Regions from separate parts of the Homo sapiens genome. Here region 1 is linked to region 2. The links come from fine-mapping of genetic effects on gene expression. A gene starts in region 2. The other region holds a variant in brackets. All regions are shown on one strand. Distances are between the middles of the regions. Region 1 overlaps LOC105371460 (a long non-coding RNA gene). Region 2 holds the start of CD1D (CD1d molecule).

Region 1 (11,066 bases), 27 kb before region 2:
ACAAGCAAATAGGTACCATGAGCTACCATATTCATTTCCAAACTTCCTGATGTCATCAGTTTAACTTTTTTTCCCCTAAGGGGACCTGGAAATATTGTAATGTGGGCCCCAGGGCACAAGAACCCCAGAAAAGTCTGAATCCTTCTCCTTCCCCCTTTTATCCTGACAGGAGTATGGAGCCATTGGTACTCAGTGGGGACCCAGAGACCTTGGCTCCATTTCTAACTGCACCATTCAGCCTGAGACATTTGGGTCTGCAGTGTCCTTTATCAAACACACCGCCCAGGCTGCGTAAGACTTCCCTGGCCTTCCTCCATATCCATCCTTTAGATAGGCGGTCTCCCCATCTGTGAAGACCCACCCTGTGTGTGTTGGTTCCCTCTCAGATGTTCCAGGGACTGTCTGAGGACCTCTTTCCCATTCTCTCTCAAGTGCCTCAGGGTCCATCAGAATACCCACTTCCCAAGCTCTCTGGCCTGGGAATGAGCGATTACGTAAGTGCCCAACACCCAGGGAATTGTACACTGCTCTATCCTGTTTCTACATTCCATACCCTCTCCTCGGTCTATGCAGCCAGCTCACTCCCATCTGCAGGGGAGGTGGGGAGACTATGTTTCGCTTATCATCCTTCCCTCCCCATGACTCATCCAGCTGCATGTCCCGTCAGTTCCTGAATGCCCAGGCTGACATCTCTGCCTTGGGTCAGATACAGGGGGATATCACCGTCCCACTTCACCAGAAAGCCATGGTTCTGTCAGATCAGACCCTGCTCATAGCATCAATTTTGTGAGGCAGGTTCACTAATAACCAATCCCAAGAGAAGACTCCCACTACAAGCAGGACAGCAGAGATCGACACTATGCCAATCGACAGAAATAGGAGCCCACACACTTCTGCCCACTACATCCTGGCCTGAAGGTCTACCAATGTCTGCTGGAGATACACTCACATGCAACAAATTTTGTGAGGTGGGATTATTACTTACAGGCAAGCAGCAAGGGAAAAAAGAAGCCTAGGATCCATTGTGAGGCAGCCCTCAAGGCTCAAGGAAGCTTCCTGGGCAGGATTGAGTGTTGCCCGTACATGCCCCATGTGCACCACAAGTGAGGGGCCCCAAAAGGCAGCCCACTATGAGTTATATACCTCAGGGGTCATGTGACTCACTGGACAAAGCTGGGAAGGGCATCCTGCTTCCAGGGGAGAGAGGTACAAAGCCTGGGCTGTCCCTGGCACCTCCTCTCTAACTCCAGATGTTACATTCCCTAGGAGGGACAGGAACAAGGAGGCCCAGTCTATTTCAAGCGGTTCCTTCCTTTCTCAGGATATTGTATTCCCAGCACATTTTACAGTTTTTCTTGAGAATAACAAGCAAGAAAGAGAGGAGAACTGGGTTTGTCCAAGGCCACTTGGAATATATTGTCCTGCGCTAACATCCTAGAGGTGCCATTAAAAGTGGAAAGTTAGTTCTGCTACCCCGAACCATACTACAGCTCCCCATCCTTAACATCTCCTAGATTTAAAACCATCCCCTAGAAGATAATATGGAGGTAAAAAGAGAAAGGGCACTGATGGAGTCGTGTGTACCCAGCCACGGAAATGAGTGATGTGACTTTTGTTCTCACCTCCTCCAAGTGAGGGGTCTCCAAGAGAATCACTCATAGAAATTGGTGGGCTGGCAAGAAGAGACTGTTATCTCAATCTCTGGTTGGATATCTGCTGATGAGCTTGTTGATCTGTACTCTGTGATCACTAGAGCAGGGAGAGAAGGATGACAGGGAAAGAGCTATCACTCTTACCACTTGGTTTAGCAAGGATGTGTGAGTCAAATGAACAGTGTGGAAATCGGTGTGAGTTTACTGTGAGTTAAATGAACAGTGTGAAACTCAACAGGGTGTGGGCCATCTTGCCGGTTCTCCTTCCAAGAGAATTGGCTGCCAAGCCAGGGAACCTAGTTATACCACCAAGAGCAGGGCTGAGGGGTTGTGGGAAGTAGTTATGAGGCAGGAGAATAGGGTCTGAAGGCAAGGAACCTAAGGCGGTTTCATGCCGACTTCCTTAGAACTAAATTGAAAGGAAAGCCTTAACTTTCCACGCCTAAGTAACAAAAGGACCAGAAGCTGCTCCCTTTAAAAACTCCTACCTTTTCTGCAGGGCAGATGGGAAACTGAAAGTACCTCTGATTGGTTGCTTTTTGCAATCAATCAGATGTTTGCATAGGAGTGTAACTTTGTAACTTCACTTCAGCCTCTGATTGGTTGTTTTCCACAACCAATCAGACTGATTGTGGGCCACCACTTCATTTACATGGGGTGAACACCAAGTGGCCGATGGGAAACCTCTAGGGGGTATTTGGACCCAAGAAAATGCTGCATCAGAGCCCTTGAGCCTCTGCTCAGCCTGCTCCCACACTGTGGAGTGTACTTCCACTTTCAATAAATCTCTGCTTTTGTTCCTTCTTTCCTTGCTTTGCTGTGCGTTTTGTCCAATCCTTTGTTGAAAACGCCAAAAATCTGGACAACTTGCAGTCAAGACCCTCTACCAGTAACAGTTTTAAGCTGCAGCAGATCTCCCATCAAGGAATTGTGTACTGGGGAGAGCTCCCAGGGAACTAACCCATGTGCCTATTAAGAACTAGCATTTGGGTACCTTCCAAATGGAAGGTATTCGTGACCAATCAGCCTTCAACTGAGAGGTGGAGAGAACCAACAGACAATTGCAATTAAATGCCCAGTTAGGCAAAATGACTTTTGGCCCTCACTTCCCAGCCCTCCCTGATTTTTCCTCAGGGTCCCAACACAATAAGTATTTTTGGGAAAGGCAGACTTCTATTAAAGGACAGAATACACCACTTCCCCAAACCAAGCTCCACTGCTCAAGTCTGGCTGGTGCTGAGGGGAAGGAAGGAAGTTTTGCAAATCTCACTGCAAAACTTGAAATGAGATGTAAGATTTTAAGTGGACTGCATTAGACTGGACTTCTAATAATTAAGTAAACAGAAAACTACAGAATCCGTCAGGGCTGGAAGAACTGAGAGTATGGTTGAAGGCACTGGTTAAAACCTCATTGAGAATATGTTCAGCAGAGTTCAGAATGTTCATTAAGTTGTTTCTACATGCAAAAAGTCTTTGAAGTAAGAGGCAGCCTGGTTTGTTAAACTGATAGTTTCTGAAGATGACTGGAACACAGAGGGAGAGAAGGAAGTCTGGAAGACTAGGAAGAAGTCAGGCAATGACAGCCTTGTTAAGGTGTTCGGACTTTATTCTGTGGGCCAAGAGAAGCCATGAAATATTTTAATGATCAAATTTGCATCTTAGAATGATCCCACAGCCGGTAGGGTAGGGACTAGAAACAGGGAAATCATTTAAGCAAGAGAAAATGGTATGGCAGTGGAGATAGAGAAATGGCAGTGTGGATGGAGAAAAGTGGGAAGATATGTAGGTGGAGAACTGTCAGGAATTGCTTACTGATGAGACGTGGGCTCGAGGGAAAGGCGAAGGAAGCTTCTCTTTCCCTACCTCTCCTTCCAACTGGCCCTAGAATTGCTGTCCGGTTTCCAGTCCCTGCTCACACTTCATTCAATGGTGGAGGAATGCCCAGCTGCTGTCCCATGGGGGTCTGGAGGTCTATGGGCACCAACAGTACCATTTCCACAGTCTTTCCAGCAGCGATAGGAGGCAGGCTGTGCCTCGAGTGTCATCTGGTTTGGAGGCCGAGGTCCCCACGTTTAAGTGACTTGCTTAAGACCCCACAGCTGGTTTGTTACAGAGTCCAAATTTCACTCTCAGCTTTAGGGCTCTTTTAATAACACTTCATTGCTGCATCCCGAAGTTAAGCAAAAGAAACAAAATAAAGATAAAAAGGAAAGCACTGTTCCAAATGCATAGCCTGGAGCATAGCAAAATATGTAATTAAAGACCCGCGCCTGATGTCGGGGAGCCTCGATGTGCGCATGCGTCCCAGGCTGAGGCCGCCGGAAGAGGTCAGGCGGTTCGCCGGCGTTCCAAGTTGGAGGCCAGCCCAGGACAAGGAGGGGAAGTGCGCATGTGCTCCAAATCATTTCCCGGCCGAGGAAATTGGCTAAGACCGTTAGCTGGTGGGAATCGGAAGAGAATGGGTCACTCGGGCTGTGCGCGGGGCACTATGGGTGTTGTAGTTTTTGCAGGGTGGTAGCAGTTTGTTCTTTTAAGAGGAAATCTTCGCGACTAGTTGAGTCACGAAGATTTTTGAGAAAATCATTTGAGAAAAAGTTGCTTGCACGGGGGAATCGAGTGTGGACTAGCTACGTGGGTGTGGCTTAATTCTGCTGTTTCTCTTTTGGATGAGACATTGAATGAAGTGTGAGCAGGGACTGGAAACCCGACAGCATTTCTAGGGTCACTTTCTGCCTTGCCTTCGTTAACGCTCAGTTCCTCCCACATCTTTGGCTTCCCTCTATAATACCTACAGATTCCCTTTATTATTTCATACTAGCTCCGACTAGTCTTAAATACTCTGTTTCTGTCCTCTTTCTCACACGCAGTTCCTGGAATCTTCATCCTTCTCTCCCTCGTGAGTACCTTTTCTTGTTTTTGTCCTAGACAGGGCTCCTCTAACACTCTGCCCTTGCCCCAGGAGTCACGCCAAGGACCCTAAGAAAAGGATCCCACAGTAAATGTTTTTAGGCACGAGCAGATCGGAACCATCCTACTTCATTTCACTTATTTCTGCTTCTCTTCCGATCCTTGTCTCTTCTGGTTCCACCTCTATGTTCTACCTCTCTGTAGCCTCTTTGCTTCTTTGAAGTCTGGTGGCCTTAGATAGGAACTCTCAGACCTGCCATTTTGTCTCTGGCCTCCACAGCCTGTCATTTAACAGAGGACCTAACCCTGGGTTGACTTCTAGGTCAGAGAGTGGGAAGTGAAACAAATTGGAAAAAGAGAGGAAACTGATGTATTAGGTTTGAAGAAGTCGTCAGGGAGATATA[T/C]GGTGAAAGAGGGGGAAGAGAGAGTAAAACTTCTTGTGCCCTCAAAAACTCTTTAGTGCTGGCTGTGTGCAGAGGTCTGTGAGCTCTGTGGTGGGGATGCATTAGTTAGAATCTTAGATGCTGAGAGTTCAGTTGTAGAGAACACAGATATACAGGTGAGCAACATTGCAGAATGACATCGATTTATCTTTTACCTTTCTGTGTGTGCTTCTGCTCCTTCCCATACCTACCCCAGCTAATTCCAAAGTATTTTGCTTCTTCACATCTTTCTCTGTTATACACTCCACTTCCCATTCTTAAGGCCCCCTTCCCTTTGTTCTGACCCAAGCTATTTCTTTTGTATATCATGTTAAAGTCATATTTTAGTCTAGCTCTCAAAAACACCATGGTTGTATTTTCAAAGAACTTCCAGAATCTGCTTATTATCTCTTTCAAAGCATGAAATATGCAATAAAACCAATACTATTTTTCATTTAAAAAATATGTAGAGTAATAGTTGAAAGTGGAGAGTGATAATGGATGAATGAAAGTTGACCAGAACCCAGGAGTTTGAGACCAGCCTGAGCAAAATGGTGAAACCCCATCTATACAAAAAATACAAAAACTAGCCAGACATGGTGGTGACTGGACCTGTGGTCCCAGCTACTCGGGAGGCTGAGGTGGGAGGATCGCTTGAGTCTGGGAGGTCAAGACTGCAGAGAGAGCCATAATCATGCTACTGCACTCCAGCCTTGGCGACAGAGTGAGATACTGTCTCCAAAAAAAAAAAAAAAAAGAGAAAGAAGGAAGGAAGGAAGTTGGAAATTTGGCTATACCTCATTTTGGTTTTCTTCCTTTGTTTTGAATTCTCAAAAATGTTGGATTCCCATAATACTAATATACATTTGAGACATGTATTTTTTTTTCTTTTTTTACTCAGGTTTGGTTAGCAGGACATTTCCAGGGTATCACAGTATACTGAAATATTACAAGAAAGGTCCATAAATGCTGTACATCCTCCAATCTGTAAATTGTTCAGCAACAGGAAGACAGTGAAAGATAGACGGCAACTCACCAAGAAGAATATGTCAGTGATTTCCCCTAAGATGTGATTGTTCCACAGAAGCATTCTTCAGGGGAGTGGGTCTGTGCAGGCAGTAAGTGGGAAGATCTTCACTTAGTGTGCCGTCCTTCCTCAGCTTCAAGAGAATCCACTTGAAGGAGAAGTCCCATATATTATGTCCAATGCTGTGAAGCATCTTTTGGTGCCTTCATTTCATCCAACACCAAAATCCTCAATGGTGAAGAAATCTATAAATGTAGTATTGACCTTGAGAAAAAGTTGAGCACAACTGCGCCCTCATGCAGCACTGGAGAAACCTATACATGTAAAGAAGGACAGTTTTCATTTGACTCTCAGAGCTGATTGTATATTGGCAAACATATTTTTCTGCCATTGCTTAGGGATAAGAAATCTAACAGAAACATCAAATAAAATACTGAAGAGAGAAAAAAAACACTTTTTTTTTTAAGGCCTTCTAGAAGGGGCAATTGAGCATACTCCACATATGTTGGCTAGTTTACCAGGAAAAAATAAAAGGAGCCAATTTGAGCAGTGGACTCTAGGTGACAGTTCTGTTTGGGCTGATGAAATCGATCAGCCATGAATACTCTGTCAATGTCTCCCACTACGATTCTCTTGCCATTTTTTTTTTTACCCAACCTCCACTATTTGGCCTAAACATCACCTCTGTCAGTCTCAGAGTTACACTCTCCCTCCTGTATTCTCAAATTTTCACATAGTTGTATGTGTGATTATAACATCATGGTTTCAGCTGGTTTCATCCTCTGGTCCGTTTACCCACCTCTTTTGATCATCGCCTTTTGTCTGGGCCATAAGTGAAAGTAAAAAGGACATTAGGTGAGTAGGAAAGGAGATTTGTTCACAATGCCTTTCACCTTGGCATTTGCCTTGGCTTCTGACCTTCTTTACTCTGGGATGCTTTTCGTGACCTCTCACACCCCATGATGGGTTAAGGGGTCTTTCCTCAAGTTGGTTTGCCCCGACTTTAGTACTTAATTATGCTGTATTATGTCAGGCTTAGGTGTATATCCACCTTACTAGTTGTAATCTCCATGCAGACATGGAATATGTCCTATTCAGCATTGTGTTCCTAGTACCTGGCATACAGTCAGTATGAGTAGATGAGTGAATGTAAAGCTCTTGTTTTTGCTAAACCCCTTTAAACCTTCTTGCTTCCCTCTTCCCCGTCATTTTTTCACAGCTCTGTGCTTCCCGTCCCCCATTAGTCCCCATCATTTTTCCACAGATCTGAGTTTTTCCCCCACCATTTATGTTCATACATTTTGCTTAGTTAAACCCAGCTTGCTCGTCACTGGCTACATGGAAAGGTGCTGGATATGGATGATTGCTTTTAGTATCAAAATCTGTCGGAAGTGTCTATATATTTTTCTTCCAGCCTTAGGCTTATTTTATGAAATTAAAATAAATATGAAGACTCTGTAGGTCTTGAGTTAGTATCACTTGAAAATGGAATTTCTCTGAATATTCTCTGAATAGAATAGTTTCTTGCTTGTTGCTGATATTGAATTGTAGGCCATTTTTGTAAGGATGATCAACTCTGAGTCATCCTTACATCCTGTGAAGAGAATAGACTTGTGAAGAGGCTCATCTTTCTTTAGTTTGGGAGTAGTGTTTTCATTTGATTATATTTAATGTTGGGAATTCATACTACTTCCTAGCATATCACGACACCACAATGTGAAGTCCCCATTTAGGAGGCACTAGAAATCTTCCTCATTTCACTGCCTGTTCAATTTCTGCCACCCTTTAAGCTATATTAATTATGACATGTCTTCCCGGATAGATGTAGGTGCCCTGGAGCAAGGCACACCAAAAAACCACTCCTTGTTCCTCTGCCTAATTCATTGTAAAAGCATATTCTTTATGATGGCCTCAATATTGCCAGTATTTTCTCTTTTCATATTAATGTCTGAAAAATGGCTCTGGGATTCAGAAGCTGGAATTTAGATTCTTTGTCACTAAATAGTTTCCCTCTGTTCATTTCATTTTCACTTGAATTCCCTCATATTGGGAATTCCCTGGGGTTACACACCAACCTTCCTTTGACTCTCCCCAGGTGGCTCATACAACTCTATTTGAGGAAAAGATTGTTGGGAAAAGAAACTGTACAGCAGAAGGGGAAGCAAGAAAGGGAAGAACAATTTTACTCAAAATGGTACTTCTGAGTTTAGTTTTCTTTTCAGAGATGCTATGAAGTCAAGCGTACATTTTTCCTTTTGCCAGTTATTCATTTGTTTTATCCTCTTTCTTTTGGGTCTAAGGATTCTTTCTAGGCCCAGTGAAAACTTTTCCTAGATGATGTGTCCATTTGAAACATAGCATGTGCAGAGAATCCTGATAAGGTGCAAGAACGCGATCAGGATTGTTGTGAACAAGCTTTGGCAGGGGGAGGGGTGTGTGTGTTGGAAGCAGTGTGCAGGGGGAGATGTAGAAGGTCAGCTTCGGTTCCCTTTTTTTTTCCGATCAAAATGAATATGAGGAGGATGTTTAGTCCATTAGGAGAGTCTAGAGAGGAAAGGAATAAGGGAGGGTGAGGGAGAGGTAGAAGGGACTACAAGGAGGTCCATTTTACCTGGACTGTGTATTTACTGTACCTGGGGAGCATTACTGAAATGTACAAAGTTGCCTGTTAGGAAAGGGGTCCTGGCTGGTCTCCCTCCCACTGGAGGCACTTTGACCACAATTTTATAGATTGTGAAACAAATAACTTGTTCAAAATCTCACTGCTGTTAGTGACGGAGGAGATGAAAGAACCAAGGTTTGAGCGTTGTTTGACTAAAAAGCTCTTACTCTTTTCCTTATGTTCTGTTGGCTAAGGTATGGTGGGGTTAGGGTGGGGTGGAGTCACTGGCATTTCTGGTACATTCCTGGAGTTCCTCATTAGTAGGGAGGGGTTGTTGGGATGCAGATGTGAACATGGACATGCTAAATGAGGACAAATTATACTGCTGTCTCCTGTCCTTTTTCTTCTTGTGTTGTGACCCTTGATCACTCAGTCAGACATACCAGTGGTTACATACTCACACTACAGCACCTTGACAGCATGGACAAACATCGAGGCAAGGGAGGCATATTTGGGCAGAGTGGGAAATGATCTTGGTCCTTGGGAGTCTTTGGGGATTCTGCTGCTTTTCCTCAAGTACCCCATTTTTTTCTGATCATTTGTGTGTTTGGGGTGAGGTGGCTGGTGCCTAAATAGGCTGGTGCCTAAATAAGATGGGATATAGTGTTCTGGAACCTATGACTTCATCTGCTGCTTGATGTAGGCAGATCTACTCAGGAAATTCCCCCTTCACCTTCATTGAATCTATATTTTCATCCTCAAAATCCTGGACTACCTCCTTCTCTTTCCACTAAGAGTCTTTGCAGACAGTCTACTGGGATGGTTAAAGAGAATCAGCCAGCAGCTTGACTTGTTTCATTTGGTTCTTGGGTGAGCAAACCCCACAGGAAACCCACTCTTTCTCTTGACTTCATAGCGACGTGGAACAGACTTGCTTGCTCTGCTTTATCAGGCTTGGGTGATTGATTATAAATTGAGGTCTCTTACCCTTGGATTATGACAGCAATATATGTATATTATAGACATTTCAGAAAAATCATAAAATTATGAAACAAAAGTCACCTGTTTTTATCTTTACCTAGAGAAAACACTGTTAACATTTTAGAAATTGTTAACATTTTAGAAATTTCCCTTCCAATAGTTTTATCTGCACATATATAAAAATATATTAATATATACAGCTACATTTAATAAGATGTAAATTAAAAAGTTTAAACAAGGCTGGGGAGAAGGAACCAAAGTGTTCCTAATAGTTGTCTTCTTTTAGTGCTTTTTTCCTTATATAAACACTTAACATCAAATGGGACTGATAAAACAGGGTTGTAAAAATTGTAAAGCTACACTATAGATAGAATAGTAGAGCTTCAATAAGTAGAGCACAATTGCCTTAAGGCAGCACTGTTGTCCATGGTTATGTTTCCTGTACCTATTGCTGGGTGGCTGATGGGAGTGTCTTATCAGTCTGGCACAGGATGGGCAGCAACAGTCAAGGAATGAAGCCAGACATTGTTGAGTCAGGCCTGAGGGTTGAGTGAGGCTATGCACAATATGATTAGTCCCAAATTTAGAAGTTAGAATGGCTATAGAATATATAGCACTATCTAAGAGAAGTATAATGCAAGCCATGTGTGTAACTGAAATTTTTCTAGTAGCTATATTAAAAAGGTAAAAAGAACGAGGTACAATTTTATTTTTATTTTTTTAGACAGGATCTCACTGGGTTGCATAGGCTGGTCTCAAACTCCTGGACTCAGGCTCAAGTAATACTTGCCTCAGCCTCACGAAATTCTGGAATTACAGGTATGGGCCATTGTGCCTGGCAATAATTAATTTTAATAATATATTTAACCCAGCATATCCAAACTAATTTCTACATGTAATCAGTAGTTTAAAAATTATTAATGAGGGCCAGGTGCGGTAGCTAATGCCTGTAATCCCAGCAATTTGGCAGGCTGAGGCAGGCGGATCACAAGGTCAGGAGTTCGAGACCAGCCTGACCAATATGGTGAAACCCTGTCTCTAATAAAAATACAAAAAAAATTAGCTGGCCGTGGTGGCATGCGCCTGTAGTCCCAGCTACTCAGGAGGCTGAGGCAGAAGAATCTCTTGAACCTGGGAGGCGGAGGTTGCAGTGAGTGGAGATTGTGCCACTGCACTCCAGCCTGGATGTCAAGAGCAAGACTCCATCTCAAAAAAAAAAAAATTATTAATGAGGTGTCTTACATTACTTTATATATGTAAGTTTTCAAAATCTGCTATGTATTCTACACTTACAACACATGTCAATGCAGGCTAGCCATATTCCTGGTGCCAATGGCTGCCATATTTGATAATGCAGATCTGAAGAAAGTTGTACAAGTGGCTAATGGCTATGATATTGAGTAGTGCAAATCTAAAGAAAGTTGAAGTTTGTAGTGGAAAAAGGGATAGTGTAAGTGGTTTGGCACTAAGGTTGT
Region 2 (11,046 bases):
AATCTCTTCTCTTTTCTTACAGGAAAATCCATGGGACCATAATCTGTGAATGGCTTTAGTGAAGGCTTATGCTCTAGCAAGAAACCAGAGCAATTTTGGGGTGTGTGGACTAATGCCCCCAAATGATAAAACAATTCCATTAATGCCAGTGCCTCTTTGTTTTCCCAGCGAGAGTCCACCTGAAATCTCAAAGGAAGAATGGAAAGCTATCCCTGATATTCTAGCATCACTGTTATTTGGCTTCCTGCACTCAATGGAAACAATACCCTAACCTTTCCAATAATTAACCTAATTACTACCAAGTATATGAAATCTATCCAAGTGATGCCTGCAGAAGGGATATTGTGCCTCCAAGTATTGCAAACTCAAGACCTGGGGACTACCTATGTGGGTAAGAGTAATTGCTTATATGATCTTACTAGATTAAATGTAGTGAGGTGTCTTTCCACTAAACGTGTTTATGTACCCTTACAGTATGCTATAAAAGGACCACAAAAAGGTCAGTTTCCCACTGGACCTTGTTCAGGAGCTATGCTCACTTATGGGCAGATAAATTTATTAATAACTTGACCTCTGCTCAAACACCACTAGGTATTTTTCACCTCATTTTCAGCCCCTGAGATCCTATATTGGGTCTATGGAGAAATTGTGTACTCTGTTGTACATTGCCTCCTTGCTGGCTTGGATCTTTCTGTTTGGTCTTGCTCACTCCTGCCTTCCAAAAAGCTCTGCCTGGAATTACCCATGGTACTCACAGGCCAAAGAGGTCAATAACTGAAATTAGAACCAACCTCAAAACAGATGAAGATCAGTTATTTTCTGTGGAGGAAAGGTTCCAATAAAGTTCCTGGGGGCTCACTGTTGGCAGCAGTGGGGTACTAGTTGTATGGAGTTTGAAACCAATCTGTTCAAGTTGGGGAAAAATCTTGCATTTGGAGCCAGTGAGACCTCCAGGGTTGCAGACACTTTCTAAAACATTTTTGTTTAACTAAACACTTAATGAAACATCTTATAGCCTTAGATCTCCTTTATGCCCCTATTGGGCATTGTATGTGGTGTTGAACAAAACTGAATGTTGCACTTGTCTTTTCTCTGATTTTACTACTATCTGACACTTACTTAAAAAGGTAGCTAATATTGCTGTTCCTCTAGATGCTGCCACCAAATACATTAAGGAATTTTTTTTTGTTTAGGGGAAAGACACATAATGTATTTACAGGAGCAGCTAACAATTGGTTTGCAGGCATCCTTCATAGTGGATGGCAAACTTGGCTATTACAAGGTTTTCTTTTTTTTTTTTCACAACAAAGTTATTTATTTGTTTTTCTGGATGCTGGAGACAAACATCTTTATTAAAGACACTACCAAAATTTTGGCAAACATTTCAAAACAGATTTGTAAACATAATGCTTCCCTTTTCAACTGGCAGCACTTTGAAAAGACAATACAATAAGACAATGCAAATTGAATCAGTATTAGTTCAAAATCCTTATATTTTTGACCACATAACTTATGTTCCCACATGATAAAACAAGTGACAGTTTAAATCAACGTCAACACATAAACTGCATGAAATGAAAGTTTGTGCTGCTTGATGAATCACAGTATGTTATGGTTAAATATATCCACTCTTTTTTATATTCCTGGCACCAGGATGAAAAAAAAATCTTTAAGTATACATCTTATGTAGGTAATAGCTTCTTTGCATATCTCTCTTCAAAAAATACTTTACAGCAGTATATAAATAGGTTACCTACACATTTAATTTTATAATTTTGTCCCAAAACTATAGATCTGTTTCATTTTCATGACATATCAATTTTTGCCCAACATTAATAAAGCTGACAAACTCGTTGAAATGGAAATGCTTTTGTCTTCCACAACAAAAGTTGCAATTTGATAGAAAAAACAAAACAAAACAAAAAAACACCCTACAGTAACACTCGTCAGTTGTTTAACCTGAGCGTTTGGCCTACTAGGAGTAGCAGCTTTTTTCCTTCATGCACGCTCACATCCACACCGCCTCTGCACACATACAGATTGAGCACACACTTCCAGATGCTGGTAGGCCAAAATATGCTTCCCATTGCTCTAATCAAGTGGGAAACAGTGTAGCTAGTGATTAACCACACTATATACACAACTAGCAAATACCTTAAGGCAACCATTGCAATGGGGGGTTAACTTGCAGGGTGGATTTAATGTTCTAGATCAAGTCAGCCTGTATATACATATGTGTATGTGAATCTATACACGTACACCTTTCTATTTTTTAACCCTCCAAGACAATGTTTATTTTTTTAATTTTGTGCAAATTTCTAAATATCCTACCATTTAAGGCAAAGAGTTTGCATTAAGAAAGGTCAGAAAATAGGCTTACGTTTATTCAAAAGCATCTCACCTTGCACACTACTGTTGTTGTTTTTTAAACACATACAACTTTTAAGTGTGGACACTGGATCCCCAATATCTAAAAAATTATTTCTAATAACAAACACAAGTTTTTGAGGAAAAAATGATTTGAAATATAGACAATGGATCCCCAATTCCTAAAAAATTATTTCCATTAACAAACACAAGTCTCGGTGGTGGGGTGGTGGGGAGAACCAGAAAGAGCAGCTTTGAAATGCAGGGAAGCAAAGTAAAATGGAAAAGAAAAAGTAACTGAAGTTTACTAATACTGAAACTTTCAACAGCCAAAGTTTCACCTTTTTAGAATCTAGAGCAACTCATTTGGAATTTTAAATAAATAAGCTTAAGTTTATTCACATGTTCTGGTCCAAGCAGAGTTCTAGGGCCATGACTCTGCCTGCTGTTGGTCAAATTCGCCTAGTAGCCTTTTGATGTGAGCCAGCTTGTTATGAAGATATTCACATCTGTATTTTTCTTCATGGTAATTGGGACTAGACTGCTTTATCTTCCGATATTCTTGTAAGACTTCTTCATGAACATTCTGATACTCTTTTGAGCCTGGAGAAAGGCGCTTTCTTTGTGCATCTAGTTTGATAAATCTTCTAGCTACAGTCTCCATCCTGGCATGCAAAGCTCTGTACTCATCATACTCTGCACTGACGTCATCTTTATAATTCCGGCGTTGCTCATAGGAGATGATAGCAATATATTTTATCAAATAATCTGGGAGTTCAATTGCTGAAGGTTCCATGGAGGCAGTGCAATCCTCTTTAGCTCCTCCACTGGAATTTGGACTGGAGTTATTTAGCTTGGCAATTTCCTCTTCTCTCTTAAGATCTTTCTCCTTTTCCTCAATAGTCTCAATGTCGTGCTTTTTTATTTGGTCCTTTTCCTTATGTTTTTTAGACTTCTTTTTGGACTTTTTGTGAGACACTGAATGGTTTTCTTCCATAGGCTTTGGACACTTTAATAGAACTGAACCAGGGGGTAAGGTTTCCAGAGAAGTCCTAGAGGTATACTTGTCTTGTTGGTTCTCATAGATACTATTGTTTTGACTAAAACTGTCAACAGGTAGGTCTTGAGCCCCCGGCCTTCTGGAGTGCTAGGGGAATTGGAGTTAGAATTTACAATCTGAGGAGGATGTGAAACCGGCAGATGGGTTGAAGGCAAGCGGTGGAGGGGTGGGGATGGCAGCAGCTGCAGGGGGCAGAGGGAGGCCTGCAGCAGATTTTTCACTGGTGGGATTCAAATGACCATTTAGTGTTGGTGGTACTCTGCTCGTCAGGTGAGATATTCGGGCTTTTTTATCCATTAAATGATCAATAAACTCTGAATCCAAAAGCCGTGTCTGAGGAGAAGATACAGCGTTTCTACTAGAACATACTGGAGATTCTGAACGGCTGGTGCCTGCAGCATTCTGAGATGGATTTAGTTTTCTAGAGAGCATTGACTCCAATGACCAAGTGTCTATTTCACTGTATCCAGGCCAGTCTCTCTGAAGCTCTTTAAAAACATAATCCTTTGAAGTATACGAGAGGTCCTTAGGATTCAGATTGGCTACCTGTTGCAGAATTGCTCCCAGGGAGTTCCTGTCTTTTTGATTGACACCATCTTTCTGGAGTCTAGCAAGTAGCTCCGGTTTCTTGTAGGCCTTCAGGGCCAGTAAGTGAACCACCCTGTCCCTGTATGGCTTCTGAGAGACGCTGCTGCTGCTGTGTGTCTATCGAATTGGATTTGCAGGGTTCATGGGGGTTGACCTTTTCCTCTCAGGAACTGTATCTGAAACAGCTTGAGGTGCTTTCCGAATTTGCACTCTTTTCCCTACATATGGTCCACCGGGTTTGATAACTTCTGTGCTTCGGTTGCGGGATTCCTCCTCTGCCTGGGTCGTTCTTTCTCGTGTCATCTGATCCGAGTCGTTTGTTGCACACACTGTAATTTTATCTTGTATAAATCCCAGGCAATTGAGCTGGGAGGCTCCAGAGCTGGAGAATGTTTGCTGGACGCAGTCAAAGCTGCCCTGAGGGTTGTCTTTGCCCACATTTGACAAATAAAAGTTAAAGTTATGAACTTCATTGAGGGGATCATTTTTGGGAATTTTGACAAGCTCCTGGAGTCTTTGGAACTGAATTGAAGGTCGAAAAGAAATTAAATTCTTGTGGCTCTGGTAAGTCTGGAGCGCCTGGATCGCCGACTCGGTGAGCTTCACATGCAGTACGGTGATGTTGTCCTGCCCCAGCCGTCCGCACGAGAGCCCATAGCGCTGCCCCGCGACCCCCCCACCCCCGACATCTTAAACTCCCAGAGGTGCCGCCGCCGCCAGTCCAGCTCCAGCCTCCACTGCGGCCGCAGCTGCTTGGGCTTCTGCAGCCGCCGCCACTGCTAGGGCCATCCCGCTGCTGGCGTACTGTCATATACTGCGCGGAGCCAGACCTCGGACTGCCATCGCCGCCACCTGCCCCACCCTCTGGCCCCGCGCCCCGCCCCAGGCTAGTCTCATTGGTCTAGTTCCCTCAGAACCGTCCTCATCGGCCGCCCTCCACTTTCACGGGGGCGGGGCCCAAAGTCGCTGGAGTTTTGCTCCTGGGACTGGACGTCCGAGAGGTAAGAGAGCTATCACAAGGTTTTCTAATCCTTATGTTTCTTTTAGTGGATCTCCAGGTTACTGTGGTTTGTATTATCAGGCTACTTACAAAAATGAATACCTCTTTAAATCAGGCCATTTTACAGCAAACTACGGTCCTTGATCACCATTATGCTCTGAATAAAGACTATGAGCAATTGCACTTGAATGCTGTTAAACTTTATTGACTGAACTTTGAATTGTTTGATTTTGATCAGGTTGGCTTGTGGAAAGTGCTATTAAGAAGAGTTCTTTAGTTCGTTGGTATTATCCTCCTGATAGCTATTATAAAAGTTTCCCTGATGTGTCCTCTCAAGAATCTTAAATTCTCATATGCAGCTATCCTTTGTACATTAAATGGTCTCCTTATGGTTAGGATAACAAAAACATGAAGAAAGCATATAAGATTCCAACTAATTTGACGTTGTGAATTGTGAATTCTGAACTGAAACCAAGTAAGTCCCTTATGATCAGGCTCCAAGGTTTTGGTCAGCCTCTCAAAATTGAGAGGCTGAAACCCTTTGACCAAAATTAACACATTTGCCCCTTCCCTCCAGCTCCTGGAAACCACTACCCTAACTCTGTTTCCATAAAATAGTAAACTATTTTAGAGTCCACATATAAGTGAGATCATGTAGTACCCACCGTGGGCTTATTTTAAGGCTCTGAGTAAATCACCATCTCTCTGTGCTAGGGTATTCTGAGTCAGTCTTGTTATAAAATATTTTGTTTAGGTAACATATTGCAAAACGTTTCATAATTCAATGGTTCCTTTCCCAGAAAAAAAGCAGTGAAAGTTCCAATAGCCAAAAAGTGTCTAACTCAACTGACCTTTGGGAAAAAATATCCGTATAATTCCAGATAGTCCTAACTTCTGAAGGTAATATAGCCTGGCCTCTGTTGATAAACAAACAAAAACAAAAAAACCACACACACACACACAAACCAGCTTCTTGTCTTTAAGTGTGCAAGAATGTTAGCACTTAAAATTTTTAAGATACACAAAAACTAAACAGAACTGTTCAAGTTTTTAAAGGGAGCTTGGAAATTTGAAGAAAGTAAAGTTAAAAATATTGCCCCATGAGTCATATAATTATTTTTCTTTTTATTTCTCATAGCTTCCCTCCTATCCATTATTTAGGCAATTTTGTATCCAAATTTAATAATTTAACACCTTATTTGTTACAAGAACACGTTACTATGTTATTTTAAGCTTTTTTGGGCAAATTACACATAATTAGATAGGCTGGGTTAGGGCTGTCTACAAGATCCCAGCCTAGAGTGTGGTGCAGTAGCCTATTTTCTCTAGGACTCTTGCTGCAACAGGATATGGGAGAAGGGAAACATTAACGTTAGCAGAATGGGAGGAATCAGATTATGGAGACATGATCCTTGCCTTCTGGCACCTCTCCAGCTGATTTAGAAGAGGACACAGAGGGAGACAGACATATGGCCATTTCTATAATTATAAACTCTGCTACATGCTGAGAGGATGGCTTCTCAAAGCCAGTTAGTGTACAAGCAGTGGAGGTTGGGACTGCCCTACTTCTCCTGCCTAGGGTCACACAGTCTGGCAGATCTGGAAAGACTTCCCTGAGAAAGTGACCTTGGAACTGATACCTTAGTGGAAATAACTAGGCATTGGGAGGGGGTGAGGTGAGGAGAAGGTCAAGAGCTTTCATGTAGAGGGAACTTTGTGCAGAGACCTTAGTCAGGAAGAGGTTTTGCATAGTGGAGGAACTGAAAGCTAACAGCCAGGCTACAGTACAGAGCAAATGATGCTGGGGTGTGAGGTGATGTCAAAAGGTAGACACCAGGGCTAGAGGGCGCATAATCTTGCAGGCCGTGCTAATGATTTTGTTTTCTACCCAAGAATGCTACTTCAGGAGATCAGTCAAAAGGTTAGGGTGATGGTGACGGTGGAAATATAGAAAAAGGAATTTATTCAAGAGGTATTCAAAAAGAAGTGAAATAGAGATGAGTTGGAGATAGATTGGATAAAAAGAGTGAGGGAGAGGGAGGTGTCAGGCTGCAGCCCAGGTTCTGAGTTGCCAAAGAGGAGTCTTTTCCTCCAGGTGAGCTAAGGCTTAGAACCACGATTTTTGGTCACTTTTTCTTATTTTCAGTGTGAGAAGTGGCGAGTTGGCTGTCCAGGTACACACTGTCATCTTACACTTACTGTTTAAGACAGAGGCGCATATTTGGAAAGTGAATGAGTCAGGAGCCAGAGGAGAAGGTATGCCGGCAGAGCCTAGGGCGGAGAGGAGGAAGAGAGTCTGGGGGCGCGTCCCCAAAAAGGAGACAGGGAAGACAGAGCAGAGGCCGGGGAGGGGAGAGCAAGGACCATGACAGGAGGAAAGAGAGGCTAGGGAACACTGAGGTGGAGGAATCCTGGGATATGACAGTTGTAAAGAATTGTAGCCAACCTAATCCAGTTCTCTCAATGTGCAACTGAGGAAATTAATTTTCATGCGTTTACTTTATTGTAAATGTGGTACTTGCACTTGAGAAATTTTGGAAAACATAAAGATGTAAAGCAAATTAAGATCACTCATAGTCTTTCCACCTAGAGACATGTACTGCTAAAGCAAGGACTTTGATCCTTTTTTCCCTTTGCATTTTTACCATGGTTGGAATTGTAACACAGACACAACCTTATGTCCTGCTTCCAAAACATAAATAATGGTTGTAAAGCGTCCCACACGTTGACCCAAAGTCTCCTTTGAAACAGGAAATTGAGACACGCCGGTTGTGAAACCTACTGAAGTGAGCGGCGGCGCCAGGATTCCTGGGACCCCGACCTCTTTGCAGCTCGCACAGCTAAGGGCGAGGGCGCCCTTCGGCAGAAGCAGCAAACCGCCGGCAAGCCCAGCGAGGAGGGCTGCCGGGGTCTGGGCTTGGGAATTGGCTGGCACCCAGCGGAAAGGGACGTGAGCTGAGCGGCGGGGGAGAAGAGTGCGCAGGTCAGAGGGCGGCGCGCAGCGGCGCTCCGCGAGGTCCCCACGCCGGGCGATATGGGGTGCCTGCTGTTTCTGCTGCTCTGGGCGCTCCTCCAGGCTTGGGGAAGCGCTGAAGGTGGGTGGAACGAGGGCGCTTGAGTGCACTCGCGGGAGGGCGGAGAGAGGGAGCTGGGTAGGGACGGGGAGGGCAACGCCTGATGGGGACTGGTGAGACCCGGGACGCACTGGCGCGATCTAGGTAGAAAACTCGCTGCTCCCTGGCTCCGGGGAGAGGCAGCGCGGCACAGAGTTCGCTGGCATCAGCCGCCTCCTGAAGCTCATCTCCTCTTGTTTCTTTCTTCCTTCTCTTTATGCTGGCTGCTCTCCCGGCCACTTGCTACACGCCTCCAATCTTCATTCTCTCCCAGTCCCGCAAAGGCTTTTCCCCCTCCGCTGCCTCCAGATCTCGTCCTTCGCCAATAGCAGCTGGACGCGCACCGACGGCTTGGCGTGGCTGGGGGAGCTGCAGACGCACAGCTGGAGCAACGACTCGGACACCGTCCGCTCTCTGAAGCCTTGGTCCCAGGGCACGTTCAGCGACCAGCAGTGGGAGACGCTGCAGCATATATTTCGGGTTTATCGAAGCAGCTTCACCAGGGACGTGAAGGAATTCGCCAAAATGCTACGCTTATCCTGTGAGCTGAGGGATAGGATCCTGGGCCGGTACCCAAGGGGAGAGAATGGCCACAGAAACTCAACTGGGAGACTGTGGCACCACCTGATGAGATTCTCTGCTCTGTCCACCCTCTTCTGATTTCCCTTCTACCTGGAGATGTCCCAGGCTTTGACTCCTCAAAGTGTCCCTCGTTCCTGCCTACTCCAGGTCACTTACTTTCCTTTCCCTGAAGTCTGGGTCCCCATTATAACCTGCACATCAATTTCTTCTCTTTCATCTCTCCCAGTCTTTTAAACCCTTCTTTGATCTTTCTCCATTCCTCTCCACAGATCCCTTGGAGCTCCAGGTGTCCGCTGGCTGTGAGGTGCACCCTGGGAACGCCTCAAATAACTTCTTCCATGTAGCATTTCAAGGAAAAGATATCCTGAGTTTCCAAGGAACTTCTTGGGAGCCAACCCAAGAGGCCCCACTTTGGGTAAACTTGGCCATTCAAGTGCTCAACCAGGACAAGTGGACGAGGGAAACAGTGCAGTGGCTCCTTAATGGCACCTGCCCCCAATTTGTCAGTGGCCTCCTTGAGTCAGGGAAGTCGGAACTGAAGAAGCAAGGTCAGCCTGCCTTCCTTACTCCCTGCATTCCACTTCAGGGCTCCAAACGGGCTTTTCCATTCCAGGGTTCTCATCCCTTTGAGCATTCAAAGAAGAGGAAGGCCCAGGAGGGGCTGGATAAGGGGTGAGGGTATTTATTCATTTCACAGACATCAACTGAGCACCTCTTGGGTTCTATGAATTCAATTAATGAACAACTGGGGGTGAAAGGTGTCAGGCAGTTAGTTAGGATCCCTGCTTGGTAGGGGGATGTTAATTAATGCAATGCTTGAAATAGGCTACATATGTTACTTCAAAACAAAGGGTGTTATAGGGGAACAGACAAGGGGCATTCATAGGAGGCTGGGACCAGAGAAGAAGAAGGAGTATCAGGGCAGGCTCCCTGAAGAAGGTGGGACAAATGGATTGAAAGTTGTGGGAGACTTCATTTCCAGAAGTGAACATGTCAGGGGCATACAGGAAGGAGGGAAATAAAGACCTGAAAGTCAAAAAGGATGATATGAGGCCTGGAGCCTCTAATGCAGAGTTTTCACTTTAAGATCCCCCCCATTCCCTTGTTGGATACAGTGAAGCCCAAGGCCTGGCTGTCCCGTGGCCCCAGTCCTGGCCCTGGCCGTCTGCTGCTGGTGTGCCATGTCTCAGGATTCTACCCAAAGCCTGTATGGGTGAAGTGGATGCGGGGTGAGCAGGAGCAGCAGGGCACTCAGCCAGGGGACATCCTGCCCAATGCTGACGAGACATGGTATCTCCGAGCAACCCTGGATGTGGTGGCTGGGGAGGCAGCTGGCCTGTCCTGTCGGGTGAAGCACAGCAGTCTAGAGGGCCAGGACATCGTCCTCTACTGGGGTGAGAAAAAGCTGGGCCCAAGCTGGAAATGGCAGGAGGTGGTCCTCAGGCATAGAGGGAGGCACTGGGGTGGGATGTGGCTTGATATACCCAGGTTAGAGGAGTTTCAGAGATGAGGCCCCCAGTAAAAGGATAGAGAGAGGGGTTCCAGACACAGGAAGGAGGGAAATAAAGACCTGAAAGTCTAAAAGGATTGAAATAGTGCTCTCTATATACAAGAAGAAACAAGACTACAAAACTCAGGGATCCAGAAGTAGGCAGCGAATAAACAATCCCAGGACGATTCATTCCTTGGCTTAAAGGGAGCCAGGCCTTTGGGAAGGCAGGTTAGCAAAGATAGCTTGGTTGGTTGAGTGCTCCCTGTGTAGGGGCCAATGAATCTGCATATAATATCTCATCTCATCATTCACAGTTTTCTTTGAAGCAAGTACTGCTCTTTTCGTTATATAGATGAGGAAATGAAGGCGGAGATAGGTTAACTGCCCGGAGCCACATAGAAAGTGGACGGGCTGGATTTAGATTCAGGTCTGCCTTGCTACAAAGCTGTTGCCCTTTCCCTCTATGCTACACTAGCAAATGTCAAAGTGGGCTGAATTTGGGATGCCCAGGCACTGAAAACAAGATGGGGAATCTAAACTTATGAGGAATAGAAATTGGGGTTTTAAGTGGAGGAGGAAATAAGAAGCACCTGGTACCCTCACACATGCCTAGACCAGGGGATTGGATATATGTAGAGAGGGGTCCTGTGCTGAGAGACAGCCTATGTTCCTCCAGAGCAGGTGGGAGCTACACCTCCATGGGCTTGATTGCCTTGGCAGTCCTGGCGTGCTTGCTGTTCCTCCTCATTGTGGGCTTTACCTCCCGGTTTAAGAGGCAAACGTAAGTCTCCCCTTTCCCTTTCCTCAACCTCTCTCCCCTTCATTCCTGGCTTCCCTTTTCCTT

The links. PIP is the estimated chance that this variant, and not a neighbour inherited with it, causes the effect.
Region 1: its variant is fine-mapped to the expression of CD1D in whole blood (TOPMed, PIP 0.94).

Annotation. Positions count from the first base shown.
Region 1 is chr1:158,145,782-158,156,847 of GRCh38, forward strand. All of the region lies in intron 1 of LOC105371460 (a long non-coding RNA gene), which reads left to right. Among named protein-coding and RNA genes, the nearest start is that of LINC01704, 11 kb to the left of the region's middle. The variant T/C (reference allele first, on the strand shown) is at 4,964.
Region 2 is chr1:158,173,053-158,184,098 of GRCh38, forward strand. CD1D (CD1d molecule) reads left to right here and starts at 7,843. Exons shown (of 6, transcript NM_001371762.2): 1 at 7,843-8,110; 2 at 8,403-8,669; 3 at 8,980-9,258; 4 at 9,826-10,104; 5 at 10,884-10,983. The coding sequence starts at 8,050. It overlaps LOC105371460 (a long non-coding RNA gene), which reads left to right. Exons shown (of 5, transcript XR_922187.3): 5 at 1-162. It also overlaps the pseudogene ELL2P1. RefSeq lists a silencer at 6,852-6,901 and an enhancer at 8,314-8,373.